2 linked regions of the Homo sapiens genome follow. The protein of the gene in region 1 purifies or fractionates together with the protein of each later gene. This does not show direct contact. Each region holds a gene or a part of one and is shown on either strand. Other genes may lie near its edges. The genes, in order: SS18L1 and BCL7A.

Region 1 (7,269 bases):
GGTGGTGCATGCCTTTAGTCCCAGCAATTCGAGAGGCTGAAGCAGGAGGATCACTTGAGCCTGGGATTTCCAGGCTGCAGTGTGCCACGATCAGGCCACTGCACTCCAGCCTAGGTGATAGGGCAAGACCCTGTCTCTTTAAAAAAAAAAAAAAAGTAGCTACATCAGACACTAAAAGGCTGAGCAGCACATCCTGCGTTTGTTTTTGGGACAAAGTGTGGCAGCCTTGGGCAGACGCATGTGGACACCTCGCCATGGACAAGGCTGAACCCTGTGCTCCAGCTGGAAGGGACAGGGCCAGGCCCATGATGGCAGAGATCCTGCTGACTCCCAGGGCTTACGGAGGCACCACTGCAGCCAATATGCCAGAAGATAGCCTCTGGGTGCTGGCCACAGGGTGGCTTTTGTTTTGAGACAGGGTCTGGCTCGGTCACCCAGGCTGGAGTGCTGTAGTGCAATCTCAACTCACTGCAACCTCTGCCTCTGGGTTCAAGCGATTCTCCCACCTCAGCCTCCTGAGTAGCTGGGATTACAGGTACCCGCCACCACGCCCGGCATTTTTTTTTTTTTTTTCGGGAGAGAAAGGGTTTTGCCATGTTGCCCATGCTGGCCTCAAACTCCTGAGCTCGGCCGGGCGCGGTGGCTCACGCCTGTAATCCCAGCACTTTGGGAGGCTGAGGCAGGTGGATCATGAGGTCAGGGGTTCGAGACCAGACTGACCAACATGATGAAACCCCATCTCTACTGAAAATACAAAAATTAGCTGGGTGTGGTGGCGGGGCCTGTAATCCGAGCTACTCAAGAGGCTGAGGCAGGAGAATTGCTTGAACCTGGGAGGCGGAGGTGGCAGTGAGCCAAGATCATACCACTGCACTCCAGCCTCGGCGACAGAGTGAGACTCCGTCTCAAAAAAAAAAAAAAAAAAAAACAAACAAACTCCTGAGCTCAAGCAATCCTCCTCCACTGGCCTCCCAAAGTGCTGGGATTACAGGCGTAAGCCACCATGCCTGGCCATTTCTTTTTTTTATTTCTTTTTATTTTTTTTGAGACAAAGTTTCACTCTTGTTGCCCAGGCTGGAGTGCAATGGCATGATCTCAGCTCACTGCAACCTACACCTCCCGGGTTCAAGCAATTCTCCTGCCTCAGCCTCTTGAGTAGCTCAGATTACAGGCACATGCCACCACGTCCAACTAATTTTTGTATTTTTAGTAGAGACGGGGTTTCACCGTGTTGGCCAGGCTGGTCTCAAACTCCTGACCTCAGGTGATCCACCCACCTCAGCTTCCTAAAGTGCTGGGATTATAGGCGTGAGCCACAACACCTAGGCTCTTTCTTCTTTTAAACTTTCATTATGTATTCATGTACTTTTTGTTTCCCCCAGGTTTACAAAGGTGTAACTGACATTTCAACGTTGCAGGCATTCGTAGCGCACACCGTGATGTTTCTATATGTGCCTACACTTGCGTGCTTTATTTCTTCACAGCAGGCTGAGATGTGTAAGCTCAGAAGCAAAACCTTTACACATCCAATTCTTTAAGAAGTAACCCAAACAAGGAAATCTGTAGCCGTTTAGTGCCTGCCTGCTTTGTGTACCTGGTGAAGCCTCACCAACACTGTTACCTCTTGATAAATTGCAGCCCTGCAGTGGGAAGGCCTCAGCCACTGCTGCCTGCCGGTCAGCGTCAGCAGACACGAGGCCCCTCTCCCCAGGGACTGCAGGCCCGCCTTCCCTCCCGGACGAGGTTGCGCAATCCCGCAGGCGATCATCAGCTCTTCTCTGGGGGCCATCTTTATCCCGGGGTGGGACTGGAACGGGCTGTGTGTACCTCTTCCCAACTCCACATTCTGGGATGTTCTGTTGGGGTTTCAGGGCAGCCAGGGTGGGGGCACAGACACCACAGAAAGGGGCAAGTCCACCCGACACGCAGCCCCCAGCGCAGCACTGCCCAGGACCGCCATGAAGGGCGGCAAGCCCCCAGCCACAGATGTGCGTTTCCTGGCCTGCAGGTGTCTGAAGAAACGCGAGGCCACACCCAGCGCAGCCACTGCTGGCCTCCAGCTGAGGAAGCTCTGAGAGTGGCTCGCAGGCCCCACGATCCCTGGCCAGACCCAATAACAGAGTCTGTGTCCCCAACCCCAGCATGGCCGGCTGAATCCTTCCTGTCGCAGGCCCCACGCTCCCTGGCTGGACCCAATAACCAAGTCTGTGCCCCCAACCCCAGCATGGCCGGCTGAATCCTTTCCTGTCTCACGAACACACCCATAAGGCAAGCGGGGCTCCCGACACAGCCTGAATTTCCAGCTTCCAGAACACACTGTCTCTCCTCCCACGCGCTGTGCTGTGATTTAAGGGACTCACTGAAGGCAGGCACCGCGTGCTCCTAAGGGTGCAGCGTCTTAACTCTGCTGCGTGTGGCGCTTACGCTCGAGCCCAGCACGCAGCCGTGCTCCTTACCCCCCTCATAGTAGTGCTGCGTGGACTCCTCGAAGGACCGGTCGTAGCTCTGCTCCGTGTAGGATGACTGCTGGTAGGCGTAATCGCCATGGCCTGTGCGAAACGGAGACGGCGACAGTCAGCGGAGGCTGTGCACTGCACAGGTCCCGGAGGAGGCAACTGAGACCCAGGCTGGGGAGATGTTGTCTGGCCAGGGAGGCAACAAGAGCCGGCAGGACCCGTGTTCCCCAAAACCATGCCCCAACCTCCTGAGCCTCGGCCTCCCCACTGAAATGCAGACATCAATGCCTCCTTCTCGGGGCGACTGTGAAGCTACCTGGGGATTTATGCAGAGGATCAGCGCTTTCAGTGCCTGCCACACAGCCATGCTAGTGACCCGACTGCCTTCTCCCCGCCACCGCTAGCTCCTGGGAGGACGCAGGCAGGGGTGTCCAACCCTTACCGAGGCCTTCGCTGCATGTGACCATCACGTGGCCAGGGTGGCTTGCCCTGCTGCCACCTGCCCACCTGTCTGTGCACCTGCCCCTTGCTGGCTGAGGCCAGCTCCCTGCCTGGATGCCTCCCAGGGATCAATCCAGCCTTTAAGACCACTTTATTTTATTGTTATTTTTACTTTATTTAGAGACAGGATCCTGCTCTGTCACCAAGGCTGGAGTGTGGTGGTGCGATCATGGCTCAATGCAGCTTCAACCTCCTGGGCTGAAGCGATCCTCCTGCCTCAGCCTCCCAAAGTGCCGGAATGACAGGTGTGAACCGCTGTTTTCAGCCAAGACCACTTTCAGTATCCCTTCCACAAGCCCTGGGACTATGCAAAGACTGAAAGGTGACGACGGTAAAATACTCTGCAGAGATGAGAAGGTGCAGGAGGAGAGGTGCTGCAGGTGGAGCCGTCACCTTCAGGGCATTCTCTGTGAAGCTGGGAGGCGCCTTCTTGAACATTTCCACCTATCTACAGCTAGGAGCTACAATTATCCGCCTCCAACTCCCACAGCCTTTCAGGAAGTAGAGGCAAGGCCGCGTGGAGGCCAGTGCAGCGGTGTGTGCCACAGCTTCTCTCTGCAGAGGCCAGGCACCACTGCCAGCCCAGCTCACCCCATCCCCTACCTTGCTCCTGCAGGGCGTCTGGCCACTCTGCCTGTAGCCCAGGCCTGAGCTGGAATGACTGAGGACACACTGCAGTGGCCACACCCTCCTTGCCCTCCTTGCCCTCCTTGCCCCTGCAGCTGCTCTGCGTTCCTGGGCGGGGTCAGGCCGCCGCCAGTGCTCACCGTCGGGGTAGTACTGCTGGCCCATGGGCTCCGCGGCGCCCTGGCTGTGGCTGTACTGCTCGCCATAGTACTCCTCCTGGCCCAGGTACTGCTGGGAAGAGCCTGCGGGGGAACCACATTCAGCGCCAGTGCGGGCCGCGCCCTCCTCCCTCAGAGGACCTGCTCGCTCACTGGGGAAGCCAAGGCCTTGCTGAATGGCCTCACCCACCCGAGGAGAACACCCCACGCTGTCATCGTATCCAACTTATGTTTTGTATTTTTAGTACAGAGTTTCACCATGTTGGCCAGGCTGGTCTTGAGCACCTGGCCTCAGGTGATCCGCCCACCTCGGCCTCCCAAAGTGCTCGGACTACAGGCATGAGCCCGGCCTGTGACACTCTTAATGACAACTGCCGCCCCTGCCCCCAACACTGACTCCTCGGGGACAGCAGACCCTCCACGGGCCACACCCTGGCCCTCACCCCCAGGGTCCACACTCAATGTTAACACCAAGGCGCCAAGCCTCACTCCCCCAGGCTCCCCGCCTCACTCCCCCAGGCTCCCCGAAGAGAAGCACACACAGCCTGGCACTTCACGACCCGCGGCGGTCAGCTGTGCCCGCGACCTGGCCCGGCCGGGCGTTACCTTGCTGGGAGGGCCGGTAGGGCGCCATGGGCCGCTGCCCCATCATGCTGCTCCCCTGGCTGCCCTGCCCCATCATGGCGATGGACGACTGGCCCTGGTAGTGCTGGCTGCCGCCCTGCGCCGAGCTGTAGTGCGACGTGGCCGCCTGCTGCTGCATCATGGAGACTGAACGACAGGACAGAGGCCCCACATCACCCCGGGAAGCCTCCCGCCCTCCCTCCCACACCCAACTACCTCCTGCGCCCGGGCGGGTTCCTCGTTATTTTCCTGTGCTCCCCACGAGGACAGCGTCCTCCACCGCAAGGCACGCCTCCCCTACGTGGCCTGCACTGACGCCCTGCAAGCTCAGACCCGCTGCTTGCACCGACTCTACCCCACCTCTGAGAGCCCAGTGCTGTCTGTCCAGACCCAGGGCCAGTGGCCCCCACTCCCTGGGGCATTCCCTGAGACTCCATGGGAAACACCCCAGCCCCTCGCAAAGCTGGGGGACAGGAGGAGTTGATCGTGCACCCACTGGCGCCCATCCCTCCGGAAGCTCTCAGAGGCAGCGGCCAGCCCCGATTCACGGGCCCCTCCCCTCCAGCACCCAGCAGGAGGGCAGCTTCCCCGGGACCACATGTCCAACGTGCATGTGTCAAGGGTCTTGGAGGCAGGCCCAGGCCCCCCGGGGTTGCAGAGGCAGAGTAGGTACCTGGGTTGGACTGCATGTTGATGTTGGTCCGAGACACGTAGTTGCCGATGGTGCCTTGCCCCTGCATGGGGACGCCCTGCGAGGCGGGTCCCGCGTGGCTGTAGCCGGGCCCAGAGATGCTCATGGAGGTGGTGGGCAGCGTGTTAGGCGCCGTCTGCTGCATGGACACGTGGCTCGGCCCTGGCATGGGGAGCAGGGAGTGGTGTCAGGCACTGGGGAGCCAGGTCACCACTTCTGAAGGTGAAGACACCCCAATTTCCCTTCAAGTGACTTTGGGAAGAGTTGCTATCAACAGCACTATTAATGATTAAGTGACTAATAAATAAGTGGCCGGGAGCAGTGGCTCATGCCTGTAATCCCAGCACTTTGGGAGGCCGAGGTGGGTGGATCACCTGAAGTCAAGAGTTCGAAACCAGCCTGGACAACATGGTGAAACCCCGTCTCTACTAAAAATACAAAAAAATTAGCCAGGTGTGGTGGCACGTGCCTATAATCCCAGCTACTTGGGAGGCTGAGGCCGGAGAACTGCTTTAACCCGGGAGGCGGAGGTTGCAGTGGGCCAAGATCATGCCCATTGCACTCCAGCCTGGCCGACTAGAGCGAGACTCTGTCTCAAAAAAAAAAGAAAAGAAAACAAAGCAGCGTACATGCTAGCAAAGCACAGGATGAATCGTTTATTTGTTGTTATTTTGTTATTATTTTCTGAGACAGGGTCTGGCTCTGTCACCCAGGCTGCAGGGCAGTGGCATGAACAAGGCTCACTTCAGCCTCACCCTCCCAAGCTCAAGTGACCCTCTCTCCTCAGTCTCCCGAGTATTTAACAGTTTGGACTACAAGTGTGCACCATCACACCCGGCTAATATTTTTATTTTTTGTAAAGATGGGGCTTTGCCATATTGCCCAGGCTGGTCTCAAACTCCTGGCCTCAAGTAGTCTGCTGGTTTAGGCCTCACAAAGGGTTGGGATTAGAGATCTGAGCCACCACACCCGGCCTGTTATATTACTGTTAATGGTCTCCAAACGTTATCCATGCTTCTCAATCCAAAGACAGGAGCATTCCATTCCTATTACACAATCCACCTGGAACCCCGCAACTTGCATTTGAATTTGATGGAACGTGACAGTGTCAGAGAGAGTGGACAACTGGAGCAGGGGCTCAGCCCAGCCGCACGGCACGCTCGCTGCGGCCCTGAGCCTGGGCGATGGCAGCCGACCTGTGGCTACCCCAGGAGGAGTGGGTCCCATGCCCAGCCCTGTGAGGGGTGGGGTGCCCCACCATGGCAGCCGGCTGCCCAAGGGCTGCCTTGGTGGCCTCGTAGCCAGGAACGTCCTCCTCCCCCGCCGCACTCACCGTTGCCAATCTGGCCCTGCAGGAGGGAGGAGGGTGGCAGGCCCGTGCTGATGGCGTCACTCAGGCTGCCCTGAGAGTGCAGGCCCTGGCTGGAGCCGCTCTGAGTCAGGGCTCCAGGGCCCAGGTTCATGTTCTGCGTGGGCGGCTGCAGGCAACAGGAAGTTTTCAGGGAAAAACGGTTAATTTACGGAGAGCGACCTCCACAAGCCAGGCCAGGGATGAGAGGGCACCCGAGATTTGCCGCCACACATCATGGCCACCTGGTCAATGTTCGTAATCAGCAGCCATCGTCACAGCCAGGTGACCGCAGAGCACCAGGCCCAGATGGAGATGGCAGAGTGAGCATCTGGGTGAGCGTTCACAACCCTACTGAGTATCAAGTTCATCCACACGTGCCTGGGTGTGAAAAGCTGGACCTCCTCCTGGGACAGCAGGGAACCCCTTTCCCGGCCCACCAGGCTGAACGCACCCCGTCCCCCTCGGGCGCAGGTGACCAGCGCCTCTGTGCTCCCCAACCACGACCCCTCCGTGCCAAGAGCTTCGGCAGAGGTGGGATCCCTCTCCTGTTTCCCGTGCTCCTGCTGCATGTGCCCCTTCCCCGACTACCCCCACCCCACACCCGCCTCGGATCACACCGCACAGAAGGGAGTGAGTGTGAAGTGGCCCTCAGCACTCTCCCAGATCAAGGTCAACCAGCAGCTCTGGAGGTCTGCACACACATGCTGTCTACACCTGGCCAAGAAAAGGAAATTTCCACCAGGACCTGTGGGTGTCTGCAGGGTGAAGAAGTGCAATTTGACAGGTCAATGGAGGTGGGTTTAACATTTTTACTCGCAAGACACATCCTGGCATTTATGTCATCACTTGCCGAGGACTAAG
Region 2 (7,269 bases), on another chromosome or scaffold:
CCTGTTACCCAGGCTGGAGTGGTGCAATCATGGCTCACTGCAGCCTCGACCTCTCAGGTTCAGTCGATCCTCCTGGGACTACAGGCGCATGCCACCATGCCGGGCTCATTTTTATATTTTTTGTAGAGACGGGGTTTCGTCTTCTTGCCTAGGGTGGTCTTGAACTCCTGGGCTCAAAAGATCCTCCTGCCTCAGCCTCCCAAAGTGCTGAGATTATAAGCATAAGCTACTGTGCCCAGCCCAGAATGTCTTTATTTTTAAAAGACACGTGCTGACATGTTTAGGGATGAAATGTCCTGAGATCTATAACTTACTTTCAAATGGTCCCAGAAAAAATACAAAGCAAAAGAAACCCAAAAGCCAACAATTGCCAAGTTCAGCAGGTGGATATATAGGACAGTATTATGCCATTCTTTTAATTTTTCTGTAGAGACTCAAAATAAACACACACAAATATTTGTGTACACATTCACACAATCACACACACACTCTCACACAATCACCCCATCATCTGTTCTTAATCCTTCAGATCATGTCACCCAAGCCCCCAGTGGCTCCCGTCTTACCATGAAAACCCAGGCCAGGCAGTGGCCTTACGAGCCCCCCACACCTGAGGCGCTGCCTGCTGTCTGACCCCGTATTATTATTAACTTTTTAAAATTTTTCTGAGACAGAGTCTTGCTCTATCGCCCAGACTGGAGTGCAATGGCACAATTTCGGCTCACTGCAACCTCCGCCTCCTGGGTTCAAGTGATTCTCTTGCCTCAGCCTCCTGACTAGCTGGAATTACAGGCACATGCCACCACACTCTGCTAATTTTTGTATTTTTAGTAGAGACAGGGTTTCACCGTGTTGGCCAGGCTGGTCTTGAACTCCTGACCTCAAGTGATCCGCCTGCCTCGGCCTCCCAAAGTGCTGGGATTACAGGCGTGAGCCACCGCGCCTGGTGCCCATCTTATTTTCCAGCTCCTCACTCACTCTTACCTCTGCCCACACTGCTCTCCTCCCAGATCCCCACATGGCTTGCTCAGTCGCCCAGTTTGAGCCTTGTCTTATTCAAAGGCCGCCCCGACCACCCCATTTAAAACTGCAACTCTCCAGGTCATTCAGCAAGACCCCCCACCCCTTTCCTACTTTATAATTCTCTGCCACACTTATCTTCCTAATACTAGGTTGTCTGATTTTTAAATACATTTAAAATTTATTAATATAATTATATTTTGAGCCAGGGTCTCACTCTGTCACCCAGGCTGGAGTTCAGTTGTGTGATCACGGCTCACTGCAGCCTCCAACTCCTGAGCTCAAGGGATACTCCCGCCTCAGCCTCTTGAGTAGCTGGGACCACAGGCACATGCCACCATGCCCAGCTCATCTTAAAGCATTTTTTTGTAGAGACAGGGTCTTGCTATGCTATCCAGGCTGGTCTCAAACTCTTGGCCTCAAGTGATCCTCCTGCTTCAGCCTTCCAAAGCATTAGGATTATAGGTGTGAGCCACCATGCCTGGCCAATTGTTTGATTTTTATTTATTTACTTATTATTGAGACAGGGTCTTATTGTCACCCAGGCTGGAGTGCGGAGGCATGATCATGGCTCACTGTAGTAGTCTTGACCTCCTGTGCTCAAGTGATCCTCCGACCTCGGCCTCCTGAGTAGCTGGATCACAGGTGTGTGCCACCACACTTGGCTATTTTTTTTTTTTTGGTAGAGATGAGGTCTTGCTATGTTGCCCAGGCTGGTCTTGAACTCCTAGGCTCAAGCAGTCCTCACACCTTGGCCTCCTAAAGTGCAGGGATTACAGGCATGAGCCACTGCACCTGGCCTGTCTGATTTTTTTAATTCCCCCACGAGACCATGTACTCCAGGTGTCACCTCTCTTTACTGTCTCCTTGCTGGGGCTGGCACATGACAGGGCCTCCTGGAACACCTAGCCACAGACTGCCTGAAGGCCGGTTACAGGGAGGCCGTCAGAGCCCCACCTCCAGAGGCCACATACCTTCAGCTCCTGGGTGCTCCTTCCCATCAGCCTGGGCCTCATCCACCTTGGCCTCGGTGCCGTCGCTGGGCACAGCCGAGTTGGGCTCTGGAGCGGGGCTGGAGTTGCTGCTGTTCTCCTGTTTGATGGGGGAGGCATCTGCGATGGAGCTCTGGTTGCTGTTATCGTCTGTAGGGGGTGGGAACAGAACCACAGGATGAAATCCCACAGCTGCCAAGGACGGGTAGGTCAGAGGGCTCAGCATCCCTGTGCCTCAATGCCCGGAACCCCATGGCAGCTCTCCCGGGGAGGGGTCTGGTTACCGTTTTTTTTTTTTTTGAGACGGATCTCGCTCTGTCAACCAGGCTGGAGGACCGTGGTGCAATCTTGGCTCACTGCCTCCACCTCCCGAGTAGCTGGGATTACAGGTACTTGCCACCACGCCTGGCTAATTTTGTATTTTTAGTAGAGATGGGGTTTCACCATGTTGGCCAGACCCGTCTCGAACTCCTGACCTCAGGTAATCCTCCTGCCTCGGCCTCCCAAAGTGGTGGGATTACAGGCGTTGAGCCACTGCACCCGGCCGTGTGGTAGGGGTCTGGATACTGGATACGCCTCCTCCTGGGACCCCTGAGCTCACTCCCGCCCCCTGACCCCCACCCACCCACCCACCCAAGCACCACAGCCATCCCATGTGTCCAGAGAGGCAAAGAATTCCGGCACTGGCCTGACCTTCCCCACACTGAGCCAACTGTACCCTGCGTCTGGAGGCAGCCAGCTGGGGATGGTGGCCTAACATATTTAAAATCCTGGGGGGACATTTGAGGCCTCATTCTGGGTGTAGAAACCAGACGTCTTGTGTGTCTGGCAGGGAAGCGATACAGAAGACACGGCATGGTCCGTGAGGCGGGATTGCCAAGGCGTTCTGTCTGACTGCATCCAGCCTGGAGCTGAGTTCCACTTGATAGGAAATAAAAGGGAGAGAGAGACAGCGGGAGGTGGCATATTCCACGGGACACGTGGTCCACTCCCTTAAAGTCAGTATCATATTTAAAAAAAAAAAAAAGTTGGGGGAGGGGAGATGACTTTAGAATAAAGAAAGCTAGGAGACTCGACTAAATATGATGTATGGAAATGATTTGGATCCTGTTTCAAACGTGCCAGCTGTAACACTTTGGAACAATTGGGGAATTTGAATATGGTCTGGGTTTTAAAAGCTATTAAGGAACTGTTGTTAATTTAGTTAGAAGTGATCATGGGACAGTGGGTATGTAGAAACGTCATATTTTCAGCAATGCATGCTATGACGTTTAGGTGCAGACTTGAATGTCATGAGGCAGGGAAATTTACCAGAAAATACTTCAGTGCAGGCTGCCGGCCACTGTCAGGACTCCCTGAACTTTTACACTTTTTTTTTTTTTTTTTGAGATGGAGTCTTGCTCTGTCGCCCAAATTGGAGTGCAATGGCGCGATCTGGGCTCGCTGCAACCTCCACCTCCTGGGTTCAAGCAATACTCCTGCCTCAGCCTCCCAAGTAGATTACAGGCGCCTGCCACCATACCTGGCTGAGTTTTGTATTTTTTAGTAGAGACGGGTTTCTCCATGTTGGCCAGCCTGGTCTCGAACTCTTGGCCTCAGGTGATCTGCCCACCTCAGCCTACCAAAGTGCTGGGATTACAGGTGTGAGCCATCACACCCGGCCACTAGCTGTGTATTTTTTATATGTGAATTATATTTTAATTACAAAAATCTAACACATTGAAAAAATAGATGAGACAAATGTGGCACCGTGTTCATGAAAATCAAGGTGGAGTGTACAGGGGGATCGTATTCCTCTCTCTACTGTTCTTGACAACAAAACCCTTCACAATACAAAGAAGAAAGAGAAGGGGTAATTGGGCAATGGCATTTACAGTTGGGCTGGGGGCAGAGCTGGGGCCCGGGCTGCACCTCCCCTTGTCCTGCACCCCCTTCTCAGGCACAGAGTCACTCTATTTATTTTTTTGAGATGGAGTCTGTCACCCAGGCTGGAGTGCGGTGGCGCGATCTCGGCTCACTATAATCTCCACCTCCTGGTTCAAGCGATTCTCATGCCTCAGCCTCCCAGGTAGCTGGGATTACAGGCATGCACCAACATGCCCAGTTAACTTTTGTTTTTATTATTTTTTAGTAGAGACGGGGTTTCGCCATGTTGGTCAGGCTTGCTCTTGAACTCCTGACCTCAGGTGATCTGCCCGCTTCAACCTCCCAAAGTGCTGGGATTACAGGAGTAAGCCACCACACCCAGCCATTTATGTATTTTTTATTTTTAGAGACAGGGTCTTGCTCTGTTGCCCAGGCTGGAGTACAGCAGCACAATCATAGCTCACTGCAGCCTCGAACTCCTAGGCTCAAGCCATCCTCCTGCCTCTGCCTCCTGAGTAGCTGGGGCCACAGGCATGTGCCACTGCATCTGGCTAATTTTTAAGTTTTTTGTAGAGATGGGGTCTCACTATGTTGCCCAGGCTGTCTTGGACCCCTGGGCTCAAGTGATCCTCCTGTCTTGGCCTCCCAAAGCACTGAGATCATAGGCCTGAGCCACTGTGCCCAACCTAGGAGAGTCGTTTTAAACAGCAGAGACCCAAGTGGAGGTTTCAAAACCAAAGCAGCCTTTCTGGGGGCCATGCTGCACCCGGGGCGATGGCCACTTTTGTAAACATGAGAAAGAGACAGAGACACCCCAACAGACCTGGGCACCTGCCACCATGCCAGGCACTGGGCAGAAGCATTTATGGACACCTCGTGGAATCCTCCCCACAACCCGTTGGAAAGGCACCGTTACCACCTTCACTTTCCGGAGGGGGAAACTGAGGCTGGGAGCAGCAGAGCCACTTGCCGGACCCATCTGCCCAACTCCCAGCCCCACGCCCCTCCTCTACCTCAACCTGCCGAGGAAGCACCAGGCAGTCAGGCGGCCCCACACGGGTAACCTGGATCTGATTTTAACTGTACTCTGGGGTGCTCGTTACACAAAAGCATCCTCTTGTGAATTCTGGGACTTAAAAAAAAAAAAGAAGGATGTGTGCTCCCCGATTTCTCCCTTGAGAAAAACTAGACTTCCTTCCTATGGCAAGCACACGCGCAAGAGGCTGGCCCCGTAGGTTCCTGAGGCTCTGTTAATGAATGACAATGAGCACTAATGTTTAACGTCTGGTCTAGCCTGGTAGCCTGGTAACAGCGTGACCCTGATACTTGGGCTAACTTCAGCTGAGTCTTGTGGACTAAAGGGCCCGGGGCACCGCCCTCTCCTTCATCCCCTGCTGTACCCATCCTCCCACTTGAAGCCTTCCAGAAAACTTGCCCGGCCCACACCTTTCCCTGACCTTCCCATTTACACACTCTGCAGTCTGACTGGCTTTCGGCTGCACGTGCACTAAAATGAAAATCAGAAAGTCAACAGGGCACCTGTGTCTGGGGACCTGGTTTGTTCAGCATCCTAGATTTTTCTGGAGAGTTTATCCAGGTCACAAATCTGGATCTTTTGGTTTTTTTTTTTTTTTTTTGGAGACACGGCCTCACTCTCTTGCCCAGGCTGGAGTGCAGTGGTGCAATCTTGGCTCACTGCAACCTCCCCTTCCCGATTCAAGGGATTTTCCTGCCTCAGCCTCCCGAGTAGCTGGGATTACAGGTGCCCACCACCATGCCCGGCTAATTTTTGTATTTTTAGTAGAGATGGGGTTTCACCATTGTTTGGCCAGGCTGCTCTCCAACTCCTGACCTTAAACGATCCTCACAACTTGGCCTCCCAAAGTCCTAGGATTATGGGTGTGAGCCACCACGGCCAGCCACAAACCTGGATTCTGTCTTCAAAGAACCAACCTCAAATGCCATCAATGGCACTGGAAGTTATGAACTTGCTAACCATGCATGTTACTTCACCTCACTGGGCCTTAGTTTCTCCATCTGTAAAATGCGGTTGGTTATTAGACTCAAATGAGGCAATGATGTAACGGGCTTAGCACAATACTTGGCACATTGTGACGGTTTCATAAATGTGAGCTGTTAACATGCCAAGGTTTTTAAAATTTTTATTATAGGCTGGGCACAGTGGATCATGCCTATACTCCCAGCACTTTGGGAGGTTGAGGGAGGAGGATTGCTTGAACTCAGGAGTTTGGAAACAGCCTGGGCAACATAGCAAGACCCTGTCTCTATTTTTGAATACAGTAAAATAATTTTTTTTTTTTATGGAGTCTTGCTCTGTCGCCCAGGCTGGAATGCAGTGGCATGATCTCAGCTCACTGCAACCTTTGCCTCCAGGTTCAAGTGATTCTCCTGCCTCAGCCTCCCAAGTAGCTGGGATTACAGGCGTGTGCCACCACACCCAATAATTTTTGTATTTTTAGTAGAGATGGGATTTTACCATAGAGACCAGGCTGGTCTCCAACTCCTGACTTCAAATGATCCTCCCATCTCGGCCTCCTAAAGTGCTGGGATGACAGGCATGAGCCACCACACCTGGCCCAAAATAAAATATTTACTATAATTATATTATATATTATATTATATAATATATATAATATATATATTATATATATATATATATTTAAGAGATGGGGTCTTGCTCTGTTGCCCAGAGTGGAATGCAGTGGTGCAATTACTGTTCACTGCAGCCTCCAACTCCCAGGTTCAAATGATCCTCAGCCTCCAGAGTAGCTGTGACTATAGGTGCGCATCACCACAACCTGCTAATTTAAATTTATTATTATTATTATTTTTTTTTTTAATCTATTTTTTTTTAGACTGAGTCTTGCTCTGTCGCCCAGGCTGTAGTGCAGTGGCGTGATCTTGGCTCACTGAAAGCTCCACCTCCCAGGTTCACGCCATTCTCTTGCCTCAGCCTCCCGAGTAGCTGGGACTACAGGCACCAGCCACCACGCCTGGCTAATTTTTTTGTATTTTTAGTAGAGATGGGGTTTCACCGTGTTAGCCAGGATGGTCTCGATCTCCCAACCTCATGATCTGCCCGCCTTGGCCTCCCAGAATGCTGGGACTATAGATACGAACCACCTATTGTTTTTTTTGTAGAGATGAGGTCTCCCTGTGTTGCCCAGGCTGGTCTCAAACTCCTGGGCTCAAGTGATCCTCCTAACTCGGCCTCCCAAAGTGCTGGGATTACAGGTGTGAGCCACTGTGCTTGGTCCCATGCCAAGGTTTTTAAGAGATTATTTAATTTAATCCTCACAGTGAGTTTATGAAGTAGGCATTACCATCCCCATTCTACAGATTAAAACTAAACAAACCCCAAAGCTAGAGG

The links.
Region 2: the proteins of SS18L1 (region 1) and BCL7A purify together in Homo sapiens (affinity purification with mass spectrometry; 2 studies listed by BioGRID and IntAct, with this or other methods). This does not show direct contact.

The regions. Positions count from the first base shown.
Region 1 is NC_000020.11:62,160,702-62,167,970, reverse strand, and holds part of SS18L1 (calcium-responsive transactivator), read right to left. Parts: exon of another isoform or gene 6,536-7,269; coding exon 6,391-6,535; intron 5,220-6,390; coding exon 5,040-5,219; intron 4,514-5,039; coding exon 4,349-4,513; intron 3,827-4,348; coding exon 3,725-3,826; intron 2,550-3,724; coding exon 2,457-2,549; intron 1-2,456. UniProt on the Homo sapiens protein: Transcriptional activator which is required for calcium-dependent dendritic growth and branching in cortical neurons. Recruits CREB-binding protein (CREBBP) to nuclear bodies.
Region 2 is NC_000012.12:122,038,779-122,046,047, reverse strand, and holds part of BCL7A (B-cell CLL/lymphoma 7 protein family member A), read right to left. Parts: intron 2,163-7,269; coding exon 1,995-2,162; intron 1-1,994.